Linked DNA regions of Homo sapiens: region 2 is linked to region 1. Evidence: fine-mapped QTL for protein levels in blood plasma. A gene starts in region 1. The other region holds a variant in brackets. All regions are shown on one strand. Distances are between the middles of the regions.

Evidence for each region. PIP is the chance, under the fine-mapping model, that this variant and not a neighbour inherited with it causes the effect. The UK Biobank Pharma Proteomics Project read protein levels with antibody pairs (Olink). The fine-mapping took linkage between variants from a reference panel, not from the people measured, so its PIPs are less certain.
Region 2: its variant is fine-mapped to the plasma level of the CD22 protein (UK Biobank, PIP above 0.99).

Annotation. Positions count from the first base shown.
Region 1 is chr19:35,326,494-35,331,862 of GRCh38, forward strand. It overlaps CD22 (CD22 molecule), which reads left to right and starts at 2,694. Exons shown (of 14, transcript NM_001771.4): 1 at 2,694-2,737. RefSeq lists enhancers at 3,271-3,320, 3,391-3,440, 4,571-4,620.
Region 2 is chr19:35,307,604-35,312,972 of GRCh38, forward strand. It overlaps MAG (myelin associated glycoprotein), which reads left to right. Exons shown (of 11, transcript NM_002361.4): 8 at 2,271-2,558; 9 at 2,944-3,040; 10 at 4,315-4,414. Among named protein-coding and RNA genes, the nearest start is that of MAG, 18 kb to the left of the region's middle. RefSeq lists enhancers at 3,843-4,344, 4,345-4,844. The variant G/T (reference allele first, on the strand shown) is at 2,156.

The sequences.
Region 1 (5,369 bases):
CACTGTGTTATAAGATTCTGGATCTTCTTTAAATATTTTGTTTTAGTGGGCTTCCCTTTATACTGCTCCAGCGAAATAAAGTAGGGCACTGCCTGATTGCTTCCAGACAGGGATAAAAGTCCAGGTTCTCCATCCAGCCTTTCCTGAACCTGGGGGGTTGGGAGAGATGAGGCCTCCATGTTATTGTTTGGTAAGGGTAGAAGTTCAGGTTCCCCACTAGGAATCCATGACAACTCCCTGGCTGGGAGTGGGAGGGATGCTTCATTACTGCTCCCTATGTGGCTTTCACTGACACTGTGTGTGGCAGAGAGAGGGGGGTGCTTGTTACCACTGAGTGGTGGCGAAAGTCCCAACTCTCCACCAGGCCCCCTTTGACACTACTCCAATGGGGCCGGGTGGAATGCCTCATTTCTGCATTGGGGTGGCAGTGGATGTCCAGGCTGCCCACATGGTTTCCACCAACACCACATCGGGGGAGGGTGATCCCAGTGGGGAGGAATGTCCCAGCTCCAACTCTAGCATCACTCTGGCTGAGTATGGGAGTGGCCTAGGGTTCTTTGTTACAGCCTGGTGAAGGTGAATGTCTAGGTTTTCCATCCGGCCTTTGCTGACAAGGGTGATGATGGAACTTGGATGGAGCGGAGCAGGTATGGACTAAAAGAGCTCTGTCTTTCTAGGATGCCCCTTTCCTCGTTCTTTGGCTAGAAAAGCATAGTTTTGCTAGAACTTGTTCTGTTGGGACTTTTTCTTGTTTGTGCCCCTTGGCATTTTCAGTTGTTGGCTTCTCCAGTATTCAGCCTGAGATATATGAGGCAAAGAGAAATCCCAGGGAATTCACCACCATTCCTTAAGTCCCGAGGTTCCTAACCAGTCTGCTTCTCTCCATCTTTCAGTCTTCTTATGCTTGTCTTGTCACGTTCAAGGTTTTCAGTTATACTTGGCAGAATAAATAAATACATCTACTCCATCTTTCCAGAACATCACTGCTTTTTGTTCATTTTATTTATTTATTATTTACTGAGACAAGGTCTTACTTTGTTGCCTGGGCTGGAGTGCAGTGGTGCTATCATGGCTGACTGAAGCCTTGAACTCCCAGGCTCAAGCGATCCTCCTGCCTCAGCCTCCCAAGTAGTTTGGACCACAGGCATGGGCCACCATGCCCAGCTACTTTTCATTTTTTGCTTTTGTTGACTAGCCCCACAGAGTTTTGCTGTGTTGTTCAGGTTGGTCTCAAACTTCTGGCCTTAAGCAATCCTCTTGCCTTGCTCTCCCAAAGCGTATTACAGGCATAAGTCACCACACCCAGCCCTATCGGTGCTTTTGGAAGAAGGTGTTCTTCCCTCTCTCTGTTTCCCTCCCTATGGCCAGCTGCCCATAGAGGGCAGTGGTGCTGGAGTGAAGACCTCTCAGCGCATCCCTCTTCATCTGTAGGATGTGCATGGCTTCCAATGCTGTCTGTTCTGCTCCTGAGACACTCGCTGGCTACAGGATTATAAAGGTGATGAGGTTTCAGCCTAAAGACTCTCCATTCAATAACACTTCCTACAAGATATCTTTTTTGTTTTTTTGAGACAGGATCTGGCTCTGTCACCCAGGCTGGAGTGCCACAGCGCGATCTGCTCACTGCAACCTCAGCCTCTCGGGCTTAAGTGATTCTCCTGCCTTAGCCTCCTGAGTAGCTGGGACCACAGGCGCCCGCCACCACACCCAGCTAATTTTTGGATTTTTTTTTTTTTTTTTTTTAGTAGAGATGGGGTTTTACCATGTTGCCCAAGCTGGTCTTGAACTCCTGAGCTCAGGCAATCCACCCGCCTTGGCCACCCAAAGCGCTAGGATTACAGGCATGAGCCACCATGCCCAGTCCTACAAGATATCTTTTCTTTTTCTTTCTTTCTTTCTTTCTTTCTTTTTTTTTTTTTGAGACAGAGTCTCACTCTGTCACCCAGGCTGGACTGCAGTGGTGTGATCTCTTCTCACTGCAGCCTCCGCCTCCTGGGCTCAAGTGATTCTCCTGCCTCAGCCCCCTGAGTAGCTGGGACTACAGGCGCCTGCCAAAACACTTAGCTAATTTTTTGTATTTTTAGTAGAGACGGAATTTCACCATGTTCGCCAGGCTGGTCTCGAATTCCTGACCTCAAGTGATCCACCCGCCTCAGCCTCCCAAAGTGTTGGGATTCCAGGCATGAGCCACCGCACCCGGCCGAGATATCTTTTTCCTCCTCAATATCTATGTGCTCCTCCCTCAACCCTTGGGGGCTTCAGTGTAGGTGGTCAGATTCCCCACCATTTATGCCTATGATGAAAAGAGTGGAAATGGTAATAACTGGATGGTGTCACTAAACTACAAATACTTTCAGGTAGGCCTGTGCCTTTTTCAGCGGGCTGCAGTTCTCCTGCTTGGCTTGAGTCATTCGCATTTCCTGAGAGCTGGGTAGAGGGGGAGTTGTGGAGGAGCCCATTCTGAAACTGATCTGATATTGCAAACCCATACACGGAAAGGAAGAACTGCCCATACGTATTCGAGTCTTCCAATCTGACTCCGAGCCCGCATCCCCCTCAATCGTCTCTTTTCCCCACTCCCCAGATCACGGTGCTGCTTGGTCCCCCTCAGAGCCATAGAGAAGCAGGGGGTGTGGCCATGGAGGGGAAACCTCTGTCACCAGAGACTTTACTGTACTTCTCCTTTTGCTCTCAGATGCTGCCAGGGTCCCTGAAGAGGGAAGACACGCGGAAACAGGTAAAAATCATTTTGCTTTTATTTTGCATTCAACAAGCAAGTTATTACGGAACAGCAGTTATGGGCCAGGCATACCTCCCAGAGCTGGGAACACAGTGGGGACCTCCCTGGCTCTCTCTTACCGGTGTTACAACAGGTTGTAGACAGACCCCTGTCTTGAGCATCCTCCTTGCCAGGCCTGCTGAGTCTTCTGAGAGTAGGGTAGGTTATTGGATGCCCAGGAGGGAAGAAGGAGCCAGGGAGGTCAGCCCCAAGGTTCTGCAAGGCCCTCAACAGGCCTGGACTGAGGAGGTCTGGACAGCATGGCCCTGTCCTGAGCCTCTGTGCATAATAACTGCTGTCCCTAACCTCCACCCCACCCTCAGCCTTCCAATTCCCGGGCCTGGGGCCCTACTCCTGTGCTCCAGAGACTCCTGGAGCTCCTTGAGGCAGCACACAGTCCTGCTCTGGAGGCGCCCATCTCCCACTCATGCTGGGATGCTCCAGCCCGTCCCAGAGCAGGTTGTGGCTGGAGGGTGCTGGCAGAGGAGGGACAATGGCCCGGCTCCTGGAGGCAAGTGTTGGCTGCAGGGAACGGAGTCTAGTCCTTGCCACAGCCCTTGTTACCCCTTAGGTAACCTTAAGGGGATTTCAAAGAACTCTGGCTCTGCAACCCTGCTAAGTTTTTTATGGAACATGTAAAATAGATCCCATGGCCAAAGAAGTATGGACAATGTATTATACTATACTCTAATCCCCATGTCTAGAGATTAATGGTGTAGATAGAGTTTACTGAAAGGTTTTTAAAGTCCTGCAGTAAAGAATCTTACTTAAGCCAGGTGCGGTGGCTCACGCCTGTCATCTCAGCACTTTGGGAGGCCAAGTTGGGGGGATCACCTGAGGTCAGGAGTTTGAAACCAGCCTGGCCAACATGGTGAAACCCCATCTCTACTAAAACAAACAAACAAACAAACAAATCAGACGGGTGTGGTGGCACATGCCTATAGTCCCAGCTACTCAGGAGGCTGAGGCAGGAGAATCACTTGAACCCTGGAGGCAGAGGATGCAGTGAACTGAGATCACACCACTGCACTTCAGCCTGGGCGACAGAAGAATGAGACTCTGTCTCAAAAGAAAAAAAAAGAATCTTACTTAACTCTTTTACCCTGCCTTTCTCAAGTGTATGTGACCTTGAAGATGTTTTTTGCATGTGACATGATGAGTACCTGCGGGGCTGATGTCAGCTCTGCCTGGGGAATCTGCCTCAGCTTCAGACCCTGCACCCCAAATTCATGCTTAGCCCAGGCCAGACCCCCTTCCTGCTGTCGGCAAGCAGCTTAGCTTTCCGCACACCCATGAACAGATACCCAGCAGCCTTTGGCATGAGCCATGTGGCCCGAGGAGATAAACAGACAGAGAGAGGAACATTGATGCGTGTGAAATGTTGGCAGGTGAGTGGGAGGGGCTTGGGTTGGTGCTGAGACCGGAGACACACTCTGCTGTCACATCCTTCAGGGTCCCCGGGGGCCAGCACGGAGGGCCATGATCATGTAAATTGGGACTTAAATTTAACTCTATGTAAATATAACTCTATGCAGAGGTCAGGGATGGTAGAGGACAAGCTCACTGCAGAGAAAGAAAGAAAGATGGGCAACAGTTGCAGAACCTAACCCACAGATAGGTTTTGTTTGACCAGCTCTGTACATTTTTAGTTTATTTTTTATCTTTTTGAGACAGGGTCTTGCCCTGTCGCCCAGGCTGGAGTGCAGTTGCATGATCTCGGCTCATTCCAACTTCTACTTCCCGGGTTCAAGCAATTCTCCTGCCTCAGCCTCATGAGTATCTGGGATTACAGGTGTACGCCACCACGCCTGGCTAATTTTTTGCATTTTGAGTAAAGATGGGGTTTTGCCATGTTGGCCAGGCTGGTCTTGAACTCCTGACCTCAAGTGATCTGCCTGCCTTGGCATCCCAAAGTATTGGGATTACAGGTGTGAGCCACTGCGCCTGGCTCACCCATACTTTGTTACTGGTTTTAGAATTCCTTTTTACCTGGTCTTTCAAACCAAGTTTTGACCATGTCTGTCCCTGAGTATAATCCTTGATGAGTAGCACCAGAGAGAGCTCCACGTTACCCGGGGCCTGGCATTCAAAGCACTCAGTGGTCTGGTGCCACTCAAAGCCTGTGAGCCAGGCAGGAAGTTTATAAAATTAGAGATGGATGAATGGATGGATGGGAAAAAGCAAGCAAGGGAGGAAGGAAGGAAGAAAGGAAGGAGTTCTGGGAAGAGAGAGAGGCTGCCCCCGCAGGGCTCTCAGTTTGAAGGAGAGGTGCAGCACACTCAGAAAAAACTCCCGGCCAGGAGTGGTGGCTCACACCTGTAGTGCCAGCACTTTGGGAGGCCAAGGCTGGCAGATCACCTGAGATCAGGAGTTCAAGACCAGCCAGGCCAACATGGTGAAACCCCATCTCTACTGAAAATACAAAAATCAGCCAGGCGTGGTGGCACCTGCCTTTACCCAGCTACTTGGGGGGCTGAGGCCAGAGAAACGCTTGAGCCTGGGAAGCAGAGGTTGCAGTGAGCGGAGATCACACCACTGCACTCTAGCCTGGGAGACAGAGCAAGACTCTGTCTCAAAAAAAAAGAAAGAA
Region 2 (5,369 bases), 19 kb before region 1:
TTGAACCTGGGAGGCAGAGGTTGCAGTGAGCAGAGATCGTGCCACTGCACTCCAGCCTGGGCGACAGAGAGACTCCGTCTCAAAAATCATAGTAATAACAATAATAATAATAATAATTTCCTGTTTTGGAAAATGAAAGAAAAAACCTACCAGTACTATTTTTGTAATCCAGTGGCAGCAAAGCAAAGCTCAACCAAGTGACTTTGGGTGGAGGGTGGTGTTTGGTGCTAGTGGCAGGAGGGAATCTCATGGGTGAGGAAGGGCCGGGGTTCAAGGCGGCTTTAGGGGAGGAAGTGGGGGGCATCTGCAGCGCAGACTGAAAGGAAGGAGCACAGCCTGGAAGCCAGAAAGGAGGGGATAGTCTAAGCCTGTGTGAGCCCCAAGGGTCTGGGGAGGCCGGGGGCTGGGAGAGTTCCATGGTTCCTCCCTTCTACGTGTGGGGCCCAGAGTGGAGAAGGAGCAAGCCCCTGTCTTGATGGAAACAGGAGGCCCCTTATGTAAGTGTGTGATGCAGGGAGGGTGAGTGCTGGGGAGGAGAACTGAGTGAGGCAGGGAGTGAATGATACGTGGAGCGAGGTGCAGCTTCCCTGGGTGGTCAGAGAAGGAGACGCCGCATGGGTAGAGGCCAGTTTGGAGCGAGGGAGGGCGTTCCACAGGCAACTGATGGAAGTGTTCCAAGTTGAGGGAGAAACGTACAGACCCTGGAGTGGGAGAAAGCTCCACGATTTTCAGACACAGCAAGGAACCGGTGTGGCTGGAAAGGACTAAGCCAGGGGGAGAGAAGGAGAGAGTGTGTGGTCAGGCAGGGCCTGAGGGGCCTTGTAGATGAAAGACTTTGTATTTTGGGCTGGGCACAGTGGCTTGCGCCTTATAATCCCAGCACTTTGGGAGGCCAAGGCAGGAGGATTGCTTGAGCTCAGGAGTTCAAGACCAGCATGGGGAACATAGCAAGACCCTGTCTCTACAAAAACAAACAAAAACCCTCCAGTAACTATCATGAGTATGACAGATTTACCGTCCTCTGCAATTCTGAACATAAAGCTTTAAAATCAAAAGGCTTTTTGCAAATTTGGCACCACCCTGATTTGACAGCAAAATCTCGCCTAAAGAACACAAGGCTGTTTGTAATCTATACTGATTTCATTTAGGGTGAATATTCGTACTTTTTGCTGTATACATTACATTGAACTATGTGAAATTTTTTCTGCATGTCAAAAATGGTCAAATGTGGCTGGGCGCAGTGGCTTATGCCTGTAATCCCAGCACTTTGGGAGGCTGAGGCGGGAGGATCACTAGAGGCCAAGAGTGCAAATGAGCTATAGTACTGCCACTGCACTTCAGCCTGGGCGACAGGGCCAGACCCTGTCTCTAAACGATAAAAAATAAAGGATTTGTATTTTAGGTGAACCACGGAGCAACAGAAGGAGGGTTTTGAGCAGAGAGTGCCATGATCTGATTTATGTATTACAAGGTGAATGAGGTTAGAGAGAGTGTAAGAGCCAGGGCCCAGGAGAAACGGCCCGTCCCTGTGACATAGTGCTCTGTCCAGGCTGAAGCTGAGGCTAGAGTCGCCTCAAAAGTGGCACCAGAAGAATTGCCCCAAGAGAGCACCCCAAACCACCCCGAAATGAGGCCACTTGGGATTCCAAAGAGAGAGGCACTAAACCACCAGGTGATCATCAGTCCAAAGCATTTGGGAGGGGAACTTGCACAGTGCTACGGCGAGAGAAAGGGAGGGTCTACCCAGACACGTCCGTGAGGGTCAGGGTATGGGTTTACATGAGGGTTTAAGGAATTTGGCCCAGGGCTGGGGCTGGTTTCTTTCATTCTTTCATTTTTGTTGTTGTTGTTGTTTGGGGTTTTTTTGAGACAGCGTCTCATTCTGTAACCTCTCGTACTCCTGACCTCAAGTGATCCACTCACTCTTCGGCCTCGCAAAGTGCTAGGATTACAGCAGTGAGCCACCATGCCCGGCCTCTTTCAGTGTTTTGAGCAACAACCTAAACACCTTTATCAGTGCCTGGGAATGTTCAAGGCCCCAGGCGTGGGTTAGTGAAGCTTGCAGTGAAAACAGGCAGCCGGCGGGGTCGTAGTGAGGTCAAGGCGCTCTCAGTCAGGACAGAGAAAAAAGGAGGGGAAATTGGAGGGCCCTACA[G/T]GAAGCTACCGCCCCCATCCTTGGCCACACTGGCCTTGCCTTGAGCCAAGGAGTCTCCGGGGCCGGGCCTCGCGTTGGCTCCGGGCCACCCTCAGACCTGATTTTGCCCCTGCAGTCGCCCCTGTGCTCCTCCTGGAGTCCCACTGCGCGGCAGCCCGAGACACGGTGCAGTGCCTGTGCGTGGTGAAGTCCAACCCGGAGCCGTCCGTGGCCTTTGAGCTGCCATCGCGCAATGTGACCGTGAACGAGAGCGAGCGGGAGTTCGTGTACTCGGAGCGCAGCGGCCTCGTGCTCACCAGCATCCTCACGCTGCGGGGGCAGGCCCAGGCCCCGCCCCGCGTCATCTGCACCGCGAGGAACCTCTATGGCGCCAAGAGCCTGGAGCTGCCCTTCCAGGGAGCCCGTGAGTGGCGTGGACTTGGGGTGGGAGCCACAGGAGGGAGCGGGCACGTCTTAGATCCAAGCTCCCAAGGCTGACCAACAGCCACAGAGCATGGGCTATGCAGATTGACAGAAAGGTCAAATTCTCCCTTTCCGGTTGGAGAGGAGAAGCCGCCCTGAGTTTGCCCCGAGTTTGCTAGGACCTTTGAGGCATGAGCCCCTCCCCAGGGCCCTCTAGCATGAAAGGGATTGCCCTGGCACGAGGAGGCTCCGTGCCAATCAGTCAGTGCAAGGATGCCCCGGCTGTGTGACTACATTGACTGTCATCCCAGCATGTCTCCAAAGTTCTCAGGTGTCGTCACCACCACCCATAGCCCTAAGGGCGCCTGGGTCTTTTCTGTCCTCAGATCGACTGATGTGGGCCAAGATCGGGCCTGTGGGCGCCGTGGTCGCCTTTGCCATCCTGATTGCCATCGTCTGCTACATTACCCAGACACGCAGGAAGTGAGTGCCAGCTGGGGCTGATCTGGGGATGGGAGTCTCCAAAAAGGGGACCTGGTGGGAGATGGAGGCCCAGAGTGGGTGGGGGAAGGCAGCACCATAAGTGTAGAGAAGGCAGATTCTGTTCTGGGAATGTTCAGCTGGACAGAGGAGAGAGGGTTCCTGTTAATTCCAGCCCCTGCTGGTCAGGGGCACACCAGGGCCTGGGCTGAGCCCTTTACACACATCATTTGAGACCTGTTTGCCCACATTCTATTTTGACAGCCTCCCTATCTCTAGGAACTCTCCCCTACACACTCCAGTGTGGTGGGGAAAGCCCAGGTACCCCACTGCAGCCACAGCAGCAGGTCCACTTGACGCCAGAAGCCCCAAAGATTACACACATCTGGGGCAAAAAAAAAATAGGCCTTGGCCGGGCGCGTTGACTCACGCCTGTTATCCCGCACTTTAGGAGGCCAAGGAGGAAGGATTGCTTGAGGCCAGGAATCTGACACCAGCCTGGGCAACATAGCAAGACCACATCTCTAAAAAAAATTTTTTTTTAATTAGCCAGGCATGGTGGCACACACTGTAGTCCCAGCTACTTGGGAGGCTGAGGTGGAACGATTCTTGAGCTCAGGAATTAGAGGCCAGCCTGGGCAACATAGGGAGACCCCATCTACAAAAAAACAAAAAAATTAGCTACTAGTGGCACGTGCCTGTTGTCCCAGCTACTCGGGAGGCTGAGGAGGGAAGATCGCTTGAGCCTGGGAGGTTGAGGCTGTAGTGAGCTATGATTTCACCACTGTACTCCAGCCTAGGTGACAAAGAGAGACCCTGTCTCTAAAAACAAACAAACAGACAGACAGACAGACAGAAAGCCTCTCCAGCCCCAAACCATACCCACCTGGCCCAACTCAGCTGCAGCCGTGTTTCTTTCTTGTGGCACACACACATCAGCTGTCCTGAGAAATAAATTAACCCCTCTGCTCCACATCCTGGTGGCAAGAGGGGCAGAAAGACCCAGAGCCTATGAGGGGAACCTGGAGAATCCAGGTGGGGGTCCTGAAAAACGGCAGAGCTCAGGGGCCAGGTGGCTCGTCCCCAGCCGGGCAGGGGCCACAGAGGTGGGAAGGATGGGCTGTGTGGGTAGGAGAGGCTGGTGGTTCTGAAAGGGCTGCTTGCCACATCTTAGAGATGGGTGGGAGAACTCTGAGGTCCCCTGAGCCAAACTCCTAAAACACGTGGGGGTGCAGAAAGGGAGGGCAGAGAGAGGTCTGACGAGTCCTGCCCTGCAGAAAGAACGTGACAGAGAGCCCCAGCTTCTCGGCAGGGGACAACCCTCCCGTCCTGTTCAGCAGCGACTTCCGCATCTCTGGGGCACCAGAGAAGTACGAGGTAAGGACCAGGCTCCAGGCTGGCCTGGGAACCTGGATGCCAGGGACACTGAAGGCCTGGGAAAGGCCTGTGAGGCCAAGGGGCAGGGGAGTGGGAGCGGCCTCTCACAGGAGGAGAGGAAGGACATTCCAGGGCTGGGTTGGACCTGGAGGCTGGGGAGGAGGTGCCCAGGCCGAAGCTGTGTAGGGGGCGATGGGACGTGGGGCCTAAGGGCCCCCTCCCCTCCCTGCCTGTGTCTGTGACTGCATTTCCTTCTCCAATAGTCCAAAGAGGTTTCTACCCTGGAATCTCACTGAGTGCCCCAGGAGGTAGGTTCCGGGGGCCTCAGTGTGCCCTCCTCTGGGCCCTCCTTGGGCCCTGGGGTTGGCGTGCATGTCCGTGTGTCCCTGTCAGGCGTCAAGGTGGTCTCTGGTGATGTCCGGGCCTGCCCGGCAGTGCTGGCCTTGTCTAGTCTGTCCTGTTGCAGCTCCCTTCTGTCTGTGGCCACCGTCCTGTGTGTCCAAATTCCTGTGGCTAGGGGGTGGAGGGAGGGGTGGGAAGCGTGGGGGGAACCCACATGTCACCTGCAGGACCTCCCAGATTGAGGGCGGACCCATGCAGGACCCATGGGGGGGCACGTACCAAACCAGGTATTTCCAGGAATTTGGAAAGATGGGGTCCTGACTAGGTGGTTTTCACCCAAAAAGGTATTAGGGGTTACATTGTGTGCCCTCAAAACTCCTATGTTGAAAGCTTCCTGGACGGGGGCAGTGGCTCACACCTGTAATCCCACAACTTTGGGAATCTGAGGCGGATGGATCACTTGAGGTCAGGAGTTTGAGACCAGCCTGGCCAACATGGTGAAACCCTGTCTCTACTAAAAATACAAAAAATTAGCCAGGCGTGTTGGCAGGTGCCTGTAATCCCAGCTACTTGGGAGGCTGAGGCAGGAGAATTGCTGGAACCCAGGAAGTGG